2 linked regions of the Homo sapiens genome follow. The protein of the gene in region 1 interacts with the protein of each later gene in a pairwise test. Each region holds a gene or a part of one and is shown on either strand. Other genes may lie near its edges.

Region 1 (6,991 bases):
TACGTGTATGTGTATATACGTGTATATACACGTATATATGTATATATACGTGTATATATACGTATATACGTGTATATATATGTATATATATAAAGTGGCAGGGTGCAGTGGCTCACGCCTCTCATCCCAGCACTGTGGGAGGCCGAGGTGGATAGATTGTTTGAGCCCAGGAGTTTGAGACCAGCCTGGGCAACATGCAAAACCCAGTCTCTACAAAAAAAAATGTGGCCAGGCATGGTGGCATGTGCCTGTGGTCCAGCTACATGGGAGGCTGAAGCAGGAAGATTGCCTGAGCCCAGGAGGTTGAGGCTGCAGTGAGCTGGGTTTGCGCCATTGCACTTCAGCCTGGGCAACAGAGGGAGACCCTGTGTCAAAAAATATATATATACATACATACATACATACATATATATATATATATATATATATATATATACACATACACATACATACATATATATATATATATATATATACATATATATACATACATATATATATTTAAAGTGCAAATGGCTTTTATTGAGGGCCTACTGTGTGCTGGGCAACATGTCTGCAAGGGTCCTGCTTTACCTCCCTGTACTTTGCACCGGCCAGGGAGGAGGGTGCTGGGGAGACCCAAACATCAAGCTGGGGGAGGGTGCTGAGGTGGAGGTAGAAGGGGGCAGAGGGGCCCCTCAGCTGAGTCCTTAGGGAGGGAAGGGATCCTGGGGTCTGCCCAGCTTGAAACAGAAGCTGGGGGCCACAAGGCCCTGAATCAGGCCAGGCAGGGTACAGGGGCCTGGGAGTCCTGCTCCTTTGCTGTGAGACCTTTAGGGAATGGGATCCATCTCTGAGTGGTTTCTCCCGATGAAAGACAGGTCCAGAGGGCAGAGTGGCCATGCCCAAGGTGGTGGCCAGGTCTGACAGGATCTGCAGTCCCTGCCAACAACCTCCTCCTCTGCTCTCTGGGCAGTAGTGGCCTGCTCCTGGACACTGCTTTGCAGTCATCACCTGGACCTGGTGGGACAGGAGGAGCAGGAAGAGAAAGAGAATTAGAGTCAGACAGAATCAGAGACAGACAGACACTGACAGATATAGGAAAACAGGGGCAGAGACAGACAGAGAGGGAAAAAGCTAGAGAGGGATGCGGAGACAGCTGAAGGTACAATTATAGACAGACACAGAGGCCAGGCACAGTGGCTCACGCCTGTAATCCCCAGCACTTTGGGAGACCGAGACGGCTGGATCATTTGAGGTCAGGAGTTGAAAACCAGCCTGGCCAACATGATGACACCCTGTCTCTACTAAAAATACAAAAGGCCAGGCGCGGTGGCTCACGCCTGTAATCCCAGCACATTGGGAAGCTGAGGCGGGCAGATCACCTCAGGTCAGGAGTTCAAGACCAGCCTGGCCAACATGGTGAAACCCTGTCTCTACTAAAAATACAAAATTTAGCCGGACGTGGTGGTGGGCGCCTGTAGTCCCAACTACTCGGGAGGCTGAGACAGGAGAATCGCTTGAATCCGGGACGCGGGAGGCAGAGGTTGCAGTGAGCTGAGATCATGCCACTGCACTCCAGCCTGGGCAAAAGAGCAAGACTCCATCTCAAAATAAATAAATAAATAAAAATAAAAATAGAAAAATTAGCCAGGCCTTGTGGTGGGTGCCTGTAATCCCAGTTACTGGGGAGGCTGAGGCAGGAGAATCTCTTGAGCCCGAGAGGCAGAGGTTGCAGTGAGCCAAAATCACGCCACTGCACTCCAGCCTGGGCGACAGAGCGAGACTCCGTCTAAAAAAAACAAACAAACAACAACAACAACAAACATAAAGGCAAAGCTAGAGATGGAGAGGGAGAGAGAAGGCTGAGAAGGGGAAAACAGCCCCAGACACAGTTATGCCATCAAAGGGGAGAGCAAGCCAAGGTCTACGGGGCTGGGGCCTCTTCCCGCCCTGGCCTCACCTAGAGCTCATCTCGGGGCTGGGGTTGGAGGCTGTGCCCGCTGCTGCCAGTCAGGTCCAGGCGGGGGCTGCGCAGGGTCTTTTGGGAGCCGCTCCAGCTGATGAGGCGGCCGCTGTCATCATCCCATGGAGAGGATGTCTCCGTGTCACTGAGCCACTCGGCGTCCCCGGCATAGTGGGTAGGGGCAGCGAGCAGGGGCTGGGCGGAGAAGGCCACCAGGTCCCGTGGCCAGAAGTGTGCCTTGTACTGCTCGCTGTAAGGTGAGAGGATAGCTCAGGGGGATTGAGGCGGGCCCCTACTCCCCGGACACATGCCTGCCCGGAGCCAGGCACCTTGCCTGCCCAAAGCACCTCACTCCCCGCCATCTAGTCCTCACAGCGGCCCTGAGCAGTGGGACTTCTACTACCTCCATTTTCCAGATGAGGAAACAGAGGCTGAGAACAAGGAAGTCATTTGATTAAAAACTGCATGCAGCCGAGCGCAGTGGCTCATGCCTATAATCCCAGCACTTTGGGAAGCCGAGACGGGCGGATCACCTGAAGTCGGGAGTTCAAGACTAGCCTGACCAACATGGCAAAACCCCATCTCTACTAAAAACACAAAAATTGAGGCTGGGTACAGTGGCTCATGCCTGTAATCCCGGCACTTTGGGAGGCCCAGGCAGGCAGATCACTTGAGGTCAAGGAGTTCGACACCAGCCTGGCCAACATGGAGAAACCCTGTCTCTACTAAAAATACAAAAAAGTTAGCTTGGTGTGGTGGCAGGCACCTGTAATCCCAGCTACTCAGGAGGCTGAGGCAGGAAAATCAGTTGAACCTGGGAGGCGGAGGTTGCAGTGAGCCAAGATTGCGCCACTGCACCGCACTGGGTGACAGTGCAAAACTCCATCTCAAAAATAAATAAATAAATAAATAAATAAATAAAAATTAGCAGGGTGTGGTGGCACTTCCCTGTAATCCCAGCTACTCAGGAGGCTGAGGCAGCAGAATTGCTTGAACCTGGGAGGCAGAAGGTGCAGTGAGTCAAAATCATGCCACTGCATTCTAGCCTGGGCAACAGAGCAAGACTCCATTTCAAAAAAAAGCCTGCATGCACTGTGCAAAGTACACACCGAGAATGGACTGACTCTAAGGCTAGGCTGAGCCACTCCTTGGTGACCTGGGCCAAGTGGCTTGGCCTTGCCAGTCCCAGTCTCCCCATCTGCCAGGTGAGGGGACTTCCTGCTGACTGAGGTGAGTTCCTGGAGGGGACGCCTCTGCCCTGCCATGCCCGGCCCCCATCAGAGCCTCACTTGGGGTGCTGGTCGAACATGATGGGCAGGAACTCGTCCACGGGCAGCATGCGGCGCAGAGGCTGTGAGGCCAGCAGCTTGCGGGCACCCGCCAGACGCAGGGCATAGGCCAGCGTCCAGTAGGAGTACCCAGCCACCACCAGGCCCGGCAGCCCCTCCACGGCCGTCTCCTTCTCAGGGTTCACCTGCTTCCGTCCGAGGTAGCTGTAAGTGACACCAAGGGGCCCAGGAGTCACTTAGGTCCTGGGTGTCATGGGACCCTCCCACACCCGCTCCTACAGGGCCAGGCTCTCAGGGGATGGGCCGGCCAGGGTCCCAAGCAGGAAAAGGCAGACTCCGGAGGCCCACCCTGCCCCCTTGTCCCTGAGGGTGCAGGCTGCCTACATCAGGTCCCAAGACAGTTTCTCTGCCTCCACATCCTCCATCAGCCGCTCCAGCCGCCCCCTGAAGTTGCTCTCAAAGCGCACGTCATCCTCAAACACCAGGACCCGGGCCAGGCCCCTGGCAACCACCTGTGGCATACAATGGGGTGGGAGATGGCTCTTCGGAGTTAAACAACCCCCCTCCCTCCACGCTGAAGCTCACAGCCTCTGCCTGGCCTCAGTTGGCCTGGCCACATCATGCAGTTGCCCCAAAGCCTGCTGGGGGCCCCACTGCCTGGGACCGGAAATCCCAACCTCGCTCTGGCATTTGAGGATCTCCAGATAGAATCATGATGGTAACCGTGGCCCTTGCTACATTCCCTGAGTGCTACTGTGCCCCAGGGCTGTGCCACTGCGTATCTGCAGGGGCCCTCAGGAGGCAGGAGATGATGATCCTCAATCGCAGGAAGGAGGTGGACATGCAGGGATGGGAAACTGCCTGTCCAAGGACACACAGCCAGGAAGTGGCAGAGCTGGGATATGAACCCGCATCTGCTGAACACCAGGGCCCAGCTTGTCACTTTGGCCTCCTGCAATTTTCCTTTTTTTTTGAGACGAAGTTTCACTCTTGTTGCCCAGACTGGAGTGAAATGGCCCCCCAAGTCAGGGGGCTGCATGGAAGAGGAGCAGGAACGGTGGAGGCCAAAGCAGCCATGGCCAAGACCAGGAGCCATCTCCCCTCCCACTCCTCCAGCTGCCTGAGTGCAAGCATGACAGATGGTGGCTGGGCCCAGAAGCCCAACTCTCTGGGGGCGGGGAAGTGGCTTGCAGTTCCCATCAAAAGATGGTCTTGGCTCACTGCAACCTCTGCCTCCCGGGTTCAAGTGATTCTCCTGCCTCAGCCTCCCAAGTAGCTGGGATTACAGGTGCCCACCACCACACCGGGCTAATTTTTTTTTTTTTTTTTTTTTTTGAGACGGAGTTTTGCTCTGTCGCCCGGGCTGGAGTGCAGTGGCACAATCTCGGCTCACTGCATGCTCCGCCTCCTGGGTTCACGCCATTCTCCTGCCTCAGCCTCCCGAGTAGCTGGGACTACAGGCGCCGCCACCACGCCTGGCTAATTTTTTTGTATTTTTAGTAGAGACAGGGTTTCACCGTGTTAGCCAGGATGGTCTCGATCTCCTGACCTCGTGATCCACCCGCCTCGGCCTCCCAAAGTGCTGGGATTACAGGCGTGAGCCACGGCGCCCGGCCAACGCCGGGCTAATTTTTGTATTTTTAGTAGAGACGGGGTTTCACCACGTTGGCCAGGCTGGTCTTGAACTCCTGACCTCGTGATCTGTCTGCCTCAGCTGGGATTACAGGCGTGAGCCACCGCACCTGGCCTGGCCTCCTGCTATTTTCTAAAGGAAGCTGGGCTGGGTGGGGGGTGGGAAGACCCCAGCCCCGAATATCCAAAAGAAAAAGTACTTTTGATAACTTTTGGAAAAGTTACTTTAGAATAACTTTTGGAAAACTACTTTTGATAACTTCTGTGAAAAGGAAATCAGCTCAGAAAGTAGTGAAGCCAGGAGCGGTGGCTCATGCCTGTAATTCCAGCACTTTTGGAGGCTGAGGTGGGTGGAATCACTTGAGCTCAGGAGTTTGAGATCAGCCTGGCCAACATGGCGAAACCCTGTCTCTACAAAAAATACAAAATTTAGCTGGGTGTGGTGGTGCGCGCCTGTAGTTTCAGCTCCTCGGGGGTGCTGAGGTGGGATAATTGCTTGAGCCCGGGAGGTCCAGGCTGCAGTGAGCCAAGATCACGCCACTGCACTCCCGCCTGGGTGCCAGAGCAATACCCTGTCTCAAAAAAAAAAAAAAAAAAAAAAGTAGTGAACCATGTCATCCTCCAATTTGTTCAGGGACGGTAAAAAAGCCAACATAGGCTGGGCATGGTGACTCAAGCCTGTAATTCCAGCACTTTGGGAGGCCGAGGTGGGCAGATCACCTGAGGTTGGAAGTTCGAGACCAGCCTGACCAATATGGCGAAACCCCCTGTCTACTAAAAATAGAAAAATTAGCCAGGTGTGGTGGCACATGCCTGTAATCCCAGATACTTGGGAGGCTGAGACAGGAGAACCGCTTCAACCCAGGAGGCAGAGGTTGCAATGAGCCAAGATTGTGCCACTGCACTCCAGTCTGGGTGACAGAGCAATACTCCATCTCAGAAAACAAAACAAAACAAAAACCCATAATGCTCACATACACGTGCACATATATTTGGCTATAGCAGAGAACACAAACAAGGAATCCATGTCCCATCTCCTGGAAGGGCTGCCCTTGGAGGGCCCAGTTCCCATTCTCTCCTGCCGTGTCCAGCAACCTCTTTCCTGCGCTCACACTCCCAGCCCCTGGGCCGAGGCTTCTTGGCCAAGTACTGAGCACATGCTAAGCCCCAGGCTTCCTTCTTTCTGCTCCTAAACACCTTCCTGCCTCAGGGCCTTGGCACCCACTGTTCTCTTCTGCCTAGAAGCCTCTTCTCCCGGCCCCTCAATGGTGAGGTCCATTCTGACCCCCTCCCACACGAGGCACCTCTCAAAGTGGCCCATACCTCTCCCCTCCACTGCAAGCTTGGTTTTGATTTCCATAATCCCGCTCTGGTCCCTGAGCCCCAGGGGGATCCCTTTATTGCAGGAAGGAGCAGACATGCATTGTTCCTGTCCTCCTCTGTGTTCTCAGAGCAGAATATCTCCTAGCACATAGTAGATGCTCAAGAGAGACTGCAGAATGAAAACAAGCACCGCTTAGTGGTGCCCACTGGGGTGTTGAACACAGAGGAGATTGAAAGCTGCTGGCCAGGTTTTGATGAATGTCTTCATTCACTCACTCGTTCACAGAGCAGTGAATAGAACAAACTGGCCCCGTTCTCCCCGAAGGCTGTGGATGGAGGAAGCAGGCACCCTCACCTCTTCCCAGATGGAGTAATGGCTGAGGAAGCAGCCCACCTCGCCCTTGGTCAGAGTGCGGCCCGAGTAAGGGTCCTGGTAGCCCGGGAGCAGGTCTACGCCGAGGTTCCTGATGGCACTGCTGTTGAGCATCCTGAGGGACACAGGTGTGGCGGGGTGAGGGGTGCCTGCCAGAGACCCCTCCAGAGGGGCCAGGCCTGTGCATGTTGGGGACAGTCACACTGGAGTCGGGTTTGAAGAAGGTTTCTGCCTTGTAACTCCTTTGTGTGACCTGAAGCTGTCAAGGGACTGGACCTGGGGAACTGGAGCCCCTGTTGCCCAGGCTGGAGTGCAGTGGCACCATCTCAGCTCACTGAAACCTCTACCTCCCAGGTTCAAGTGATTTTCCTGCCTCAGCCTCACAAGTAGCTGAGATTACAGGTGCCCAGCTAATGTTTTTTTTTTTTT
Region 2 (7,035 bases), on another chromosome or scaffold:
AGCCACTGCACCCAGCCTGCTTATCATAAGCATTTATGTGCTGCTTTCTTTTACCACCAATCAGGAGCAATCCCACCAAAACCAGCAACTTTGTTAATCTCTTAGTCTTAGAAAAGAAATAAAATTGCCACCTCTTCCTCTCCCAAAACCACCATCCATCATTTTACTTATCTGCTACCAGAGGAAGAGGAAGCCAAGAGAATACAGGCCCTTGAGGAGGGGCTGCTCCCCTATTCCCGCCACAGTAAGCACAGCACTGCTTGCAACTAGAACTTCATTCATTAATTTTTTACAAAAGCAGGTGAGAAACATAATAGAGGAAAATGTAGTCCTAGCAGCAACAACATGAAGGCTGAATGAGTGGCTCCCACAGCACAGCCGAAACCCACCCCTTTAAGTGACGGAGAAGCTGAGGAACAGCTCTAATCCACGGATCGCCAGGAGACAGCACAGCTGGAAGGACCTGAGCCTTGCCCCTGGGCTTCTGCCATCTAAACATAGGAAACACTTGTGGCTTTCCACTAATGATGACACTGAATCCAGTATTCCTCCCACTCCTTTTTCAAAATAGCAGTGGGTATAAAAAGTCAAAGTTGTGCAGACAAGTGAGAAAAAGAAACAGACATCCGCAGACCCTCAGGCCCATTCCAGGCAGAACCGCCCGCTCCCCACACCCGCTGCTGGGGTCCACACTTTCTCCTTCTCATTCAGGACTCTTGATCGCGGGGCCTATCCAGATCCTTGCAGCATGCGGCACGGGTTCCACGTGTGCGTGGGCAGCCTGGCCTTTCTGTGCAGCATCCCCTGATCTCCACTGGCCTTTCCCCTCCACTCCACTCAGTGACCCAGCCCAGGGCAGTCTTCCTGCTCGAAATTACACCATCGCCAAAATTCCGGCTGCCGCTCTCCGACCCGTTTCTTCTGGCAGCAGGCTGGTTCCTCGGCCCCACCGTGCTGACTCCTTGGCCTCCTGAACTCCTCATCCGGCCCTTCTCCGTTTTTTCAGCGGCTTCAACAGGACATTCAAATTCCCTTTCCGCTGCCTCCACCTGGTAAAATCCCACCGGAGTGCAGCTTTCCCTCCTCCTGCTCCAGGAGGTGCTGAGCTGAGCACTGCTGGGTGGAGTCAGGCACAGGGCAGGGGGGTCCTGAGCCAGTCCTCATCAGCCCCCCATGGCCTGCACATTGCTGCCTGGCAATCTAAGGCTTCTTGCTTTATCTCAACGTCCATTTTACTCTAAACCACTTCAAACCTCCACTTCCTGCCCCACACTTCCATTCTTAGCAGACAACTTCCCCTACTTCACACACAGAAACCCAAAGCCATCAGTGTGAACTCCCTTACCTTCCTGCTGCCACCAAACCACCAAACCACCAAACACACCAACTAAGAACACCCATGCTCTTGTCCTTTCCTGGTTCCCACAGAGCTGAGATCCACCTGTCCACCCTGCTTTACAGCCAACCCCTTACCTGCTCAGGGAATTGATGCTATTGGGCTTTTTCCTCTAGTGAACATGTTCTCACTCTCTGAAAATGCATCCATCAACTTTTAAACATGAAGTCCCTTCCATCTTAAACAGAAAGCTTACTTCACTTCACCTTCCAGCCTCTGTACACTCATACATCCATTCATCCATCCATCCATCCATCCACTAACTGGCTCAATAAATACTGAGTGCTGCTATGTGCCTGTTCTAAGTGCTGGGTAAGGGATCCAGCTCCTGGTTAAAAATCTATGTGCTGGCTGCTACACCAAAAATACCATAGGCCAGGCACTGTGGCTCACGCCTGTAATCCTGGCACTTTGGGAAGCTGAGGCAGGCGGATTGCTTGAACCCAGTTCAAGACCTGCCTGGGCAACATGGCGAGTCCTCCATCTCTACAAAAAATACAAATATTAGCCAGGTATGGGGGCACACACATGTAGTGCCAGCTACTTGGGAGGCCGAGGTGGGAGGATCACCTGAGCCCGGGAGTCAGAGGTTGCAGTGAGCCGAGATCACACCACTGCACTCCAGTGTAAGTCAGAGTCTCCCAAAGAGCCTAAACAGCTGTGGAAGCTCCTCACTGGAGGGCCGACTGTGGAATCTCGGCACTGGAGGGCTGAGCTTTGAAACAACTGATGAGAACCTGAGAAGCCAATCTGAGCGATGGGGAACGCTCGTGGACTGTGTAGTCATGAGATCCAAGCACCAAGCACTCTGGGGCTTTGGGTTTGTCCTGTATGCCGCTGTGAAGGAGGTGGATGCGCCATGAATGCAAAGCCACACAAGGTGGATGAAGAGTTGTGGAACCAAAGGGCTGTCTCGAGAAGATTCTCAAAGACGAGGTGCCCAACTGTGAAAAAGATATTTGCTGGCGGCATTAAAGAAGACATTGAAGAACATCGCCTAAGAGATCTTGAACAGTATGGAAAAACTGAAGTGACTGAAATCATGACTGACAGAGGTAGTGCCAAGAAAAGGGGCTATGCCTTCGTGCCTCTGACAACCACGACGCTGTGGACAAGACTGTCACTCAGAAATACCATACTGTGAATGGCCAAAACTGTGAAGTTAGGGAAGTCCTGTGAAAGCAAGAGATGGCTAGTGCTTTATCCAGCCAAAGAGGTCGAAGTGCTTCTGGAAACTTTGGTGGTGGTTGTGGAGGTGGTTTTGGTGGGAATGACAACTTCGGTCATGGAGGAAATTTCAGTGGTCATGATGGCTTTGGTGGCAGCTGTCCACAGCGGTGGCGGTGGATACAGTGGCAGCAGGGATGGCTGTAATGGATTTGGTAATGATGGAATCAATTCTGGAGGTGGCAGAAGCTCCAATGATTTTGGCAATTACAACAATCAGCCTTCAAATTTTGGACCCATAAAGGGAGGAAACTTTGGAGGCAGAAGCTCTGGCCCTTATGGTGGTGGAGAACAATACTTTGCCAAATTTTACTTTACTTTACAAAACCAAGGTGGCTACGGTGGTTCCAGTAGCAACAGTAGCCATGGCACTGGCAGAAGATTTTAACCCATTTATGCCTGAGGTTGCACTTTTTGAATTTGAAAAATCAGACCTTGGCGATGACCTTGAACAGGAGAACATAAATAACTCCCACATGCTTAGCGTTCCAATAATGGAATACCAGGCATAAATGGGTTCACAAAACCAAGGTGGCTATGGTGGTTCTAGTAGCAGCAGTAGCCATGGCACTGGCAGAAGATTTTAATCACTGCCAGGAAACAAAGTTTAGCCGGAAAGGAGAGCCAGAGAAGCGATAGGGAAGCTACAGGTTACAAGAGATTTGTGAACTCAGTCAGCCAAGCACAGTGGTGGCAGAGCCCAGCTGCTACAAAGAAGATATGTTTTAGACAATACTCACGTGTATGAGCAAAAAACTCCAGGACTGTATTTGTGACTAATTTTATTAACAGGTTATTTTCGTTTCTGTTCTGTGGAAAGTACCAAGCATTCCAACAAAGGGTTTTAATGTAATTTTTTTCTTTTGCACTCATGCTGTTGATTGCTAAATGTAATAGTCTGATCATGAGACTGAATAAATGTGTCCTTTTAAAAAACGTGCTGTGTAAAGTTAGTCTCCTCGGAAGCCATCTTGGTAAACTCCCCCAAGAGTGTGAAGTCAGAATTCCTTCAGGGTGATGCCAGGTTCTACTTGGAACTTATTTACACTCTGCTCGGGTGGAGAAGCCACTGTCTTCAGTGAGCTCGGTGTAGCTGAACTGACAGTTACTGTTGTGACCTGAAGTTCACCACCAAAGGGGATCACCCAAGCAAAGTCACAGAATTATTAGTTATAAAAATGATTGTTGGCACATCCCATGCAATATATCTAAACTGAATAATGGTACCAGATAACATTATAGATGGGAATGAAGCTTGTGTATCATCCATAATTGTATGTAGCTAATAAACTATTTAATTCTCTTAAAAAAACACTGTAGACTGGGTAGCTTATAAACAACAGACACTTATTTCTCTCAGTTCTAGAGACTGGAAGTCCATGATCAAGGCGCCAGCAGATTCGGCGTCTGGTGAGGCATCTCTGGTTCACAGATGACACCTTCTGAGTCCTCACACGATGGAAAGGGCAATGGATCCTTCTTTTCCTCAACTTCCCAGGCTCAAGCAATCCTCCCACCGCAGCCTCCCATGTAGCTGGGACCACAGGCACACACCATCACGCTCAACTAATTTTTTAATTTTTTGTAGAAGCGGGGTCTCGCCATGTTGCCCAGACTGGTCTTGAACTCCTGGGCCCAAGCAATCCTCCTGCCTCAGGCTTCCAAAGTGCTGGGATTATAGGCATGAGCCACTGCATGTGGCCTGGGGCCTCTTTTTTAATAGGGCATGAAACCCATTCCTAATCACATCCCAAAGGCACCTCCTCCTCATACCATCACATTGGGGATTAAGTTTCAACATAGGAATTCTGGGGGGGACACAGACATTCAGACCACAGCACTGTGAGTGATTTTGGGGCTGGCCACAGGCAATTACACAGGCTCTAGCAGGCAGGCCTCCCGGGGAAAGCTCCCTCTGCACACCAGACTTGGAGCACAGCCCAGGCAGTGTAGCCCCTGGGGAGGTGCAGTCAAGGTCCCAGGCCCTTCGGCCCACCACACTTTTTCATGTAGTTCCCTTCCTAGCCCAGTGCCTTATTTCCCAGGAATCCTTATCTGAGGCTGTAGGAGTAGACGGGACCCCCAGCTGGCACACGCCTGGCACAGTGGTTGGGAAGCTCACCTTGACCATTCTAGCTTCAGCCCTCCCCTGGCTGAAACCCTGCAGACACAAGTCACTTCCGTGTCCTTAATTCCAAGGAACATTTTTGAAGCATCAGTATCCTTTCCAACTCAACAGCACAGGACACTTTGGCACTCCCTCCTGCTTACAATGTTCTCTTCAACTCCCATGTCCCACCGGCTCTCCTGACTGTCCTCCCGCCTCGCCAGCTGCTCCTGCTTGGGGTCTCCTCTGCCGCCTTAGCTCCTTCTACCTGGAAAGACAGCTTCCTCCTTGTGTTTCTCTACACTCCCCCTAACCACCTCACCCACACCTACCATGGGAACAGTGAGGGAAATAGATAAGGTAGGTATACTTACAATCTTCTAAGTGGGAAAGGCAGAGAGAGCTTAAATTGTTTATTAGGCATTTTTCTCTTATTACCATCTTCCACGCGGTGATCTTTGAAGTGAAACATGATAAATTAATGCCATTTGTAAATATGAAATAACTCAGTCAACAAGCAAATGACTTGTCTCAACCTGTGTGCTATGGTCTGAGTGTTTGCTGAAATCCTCGACCCCATGGTGATGGTACTGGAAGATGGCCCTTCAGGAGATGATCAGGTCATGGGGATGGAGTCCTCATGAATGGGATCCACGCCCTAATAAGACGAGAAAGAGACTAAAGCTCTCTGCTCTCTGCCATGTCAAGATATAACCAGAGGCAACAGTGTGACACCAGGAAGGGGGAGGCCTCACCAAGAACCCATGAGTGCACCTTGATCTCTGACTTCCGGCCTCAAAACCCGTAAGAAATAAATTTCTGTTGTTTATAAATCACAAAGTCTAAGGTATTTTATTACAGCAGGCTGAATGGACTAAGACATCTCGCAAATTGTCAGCAGGGGTTAGTAGGACTCCCACAAGAGAACTCTGTAGAATGTTCCGGCATTATGTTCTTGTCATCTAACTCCCAACAATTACCTTATGCCAATGCCCTCAGCTCTCCTTGGTAGTTACCCAAATCCAAACAACTCACTCATCTGTTTGTTCAACAAGTAGTTATGAACAGCTATTAGACACCAGGTACTTGGTAGGTTCTACATACACAGAAAGGAATAAGACAGCACCTAGCGTACTTACATTCAGATGGGGGAAAATGGGCAATAAACTAATGAGGCAGGTTCTACTAAGGACATAAATAGGGGCAGAGTAACTGGGTCAGGAAGAGCCTCTCTAAAGAGGTGACCAAGTGAAGACATCAGGAAGTGACCAATCCAACTCTGAAAAGAGCCAGGAAGGGGCATTCCTGAAAAAAGAAATGCAACTGCCAGGTCTCCCAGGCAGAAGAAAATGGCTCCAACTGAGGAGGAGAAAGAGGGCAGGGCAAGGCAAGCACTGGGGAGAGGGTGGGGAGGCGGGCCGACAAGCAGTGCAGGGCTGAGAGGCCAAGGGAGGGATCTGGATTTTACTCAAGTGCTGCAGGAAGTCAATGAAGGATGTGATCAGGGGAGGAATATGATCAACTCTCTTAAGATCTGGCTCAATATCTCTCCCTCCTTGACTTCTTCCCAGGCATCTCGAAGGAGAGGTCCCAGAACTCTGGCTACCGTGCCTCTCCCCGGGGCTCAAAGCGCCTGCATAGGAGGATGATGCAGCCTGGATGTCAGGATGCTCCCCTATGACCTTCACTGCCTCGCCCAACTCCTCAACTGGCCTAGAACCATCCCTGTCAAGACCCAATTCCAATGTGCCCGCCATCCTGGTTACGTCTTGCTGCACAAGACGTGCAACACTCTCAGGTCATCCCTCACCCCATTCAGGTCTGTGCGCCTTTAATCCCATCTCATCTCCTACCCATCTCCAAAAACCAACAGCAAACCTCCCTATGTCCTCACCCTCTTCTCTGATGATCCTCTCACCTTCCGGCTAGGTTTGAAATTTAGTCTCCAGGACCAGGGCTCTCCCCTGTGAATCCTGTACCACTTGGACAGGCAGTGAGCTAGGTGTCTGCCCTCCTCACTGCCACTTCCTGCCCCTTCCTCCTCCCTAGAGAAACCTGCTTTCCAAGTCACTCCTCAATAGCCCCCTAGCAACAATTCCCTCTTGCCTGCACCATAATTTTCCCCTTTCCTGGACCATTCCCAATGCACAGAAACATCCAGTATTTTCCTTGGGAAAATGACATGTTCCCCGACCCCACTGCATCCTTCAACTACCACCCACTTCTTTGCTCCACAGGAAAAATCACTGAGATGGCCATACCATCTCCATCTTCTTTCTATTCTCCCCTGACTTCAATCAGGCCT

Evidence for each region.
Region 2: the proteins of CERCAM (region 1) and SFT2D1 interact in binary tests that used the Homo sapiens proteins (3 or more experiments, as listed by UniProt).

Annotation. Positions count from the first base shown.
Region 1 is NC_000009.12:128,430,857-128,437,847, reverse strand, and holds the end of CERCAM (inactive glycosyltransferase 25 family member 3 isoform a precursor), read right to left. Parts: intron 6,678-6,991; coding exon 6,545-6,677; intron 3,747-6,544; coding exon 3,619-3,746; intron 3,439-3,618; coding exon 3,235-3,438; intron 2,196-3,234; coding exon 1,943-2,195; intron 1,000-1,942; 3' UTR 501-999; downstream 1-500. UniProt on the Homo sapiens protein: Probable cell adhesion protein involved in leukocyte transmigration across the blood-brain barrier. Does not express any beta-galactosyltransferase activity in vitro.
Region 2 is NC_000006.12:166,332,544-166,339,578, forward strand, and holds part of SFT2D1 (vesicle transport protein SFT2A), read right to left. Parts: intron 1-7,035. UniProt on the Homo sapiens protein: May be involved in fusion of retrograde transport vesicles derived from an endocytic compartment with the Golgi complex.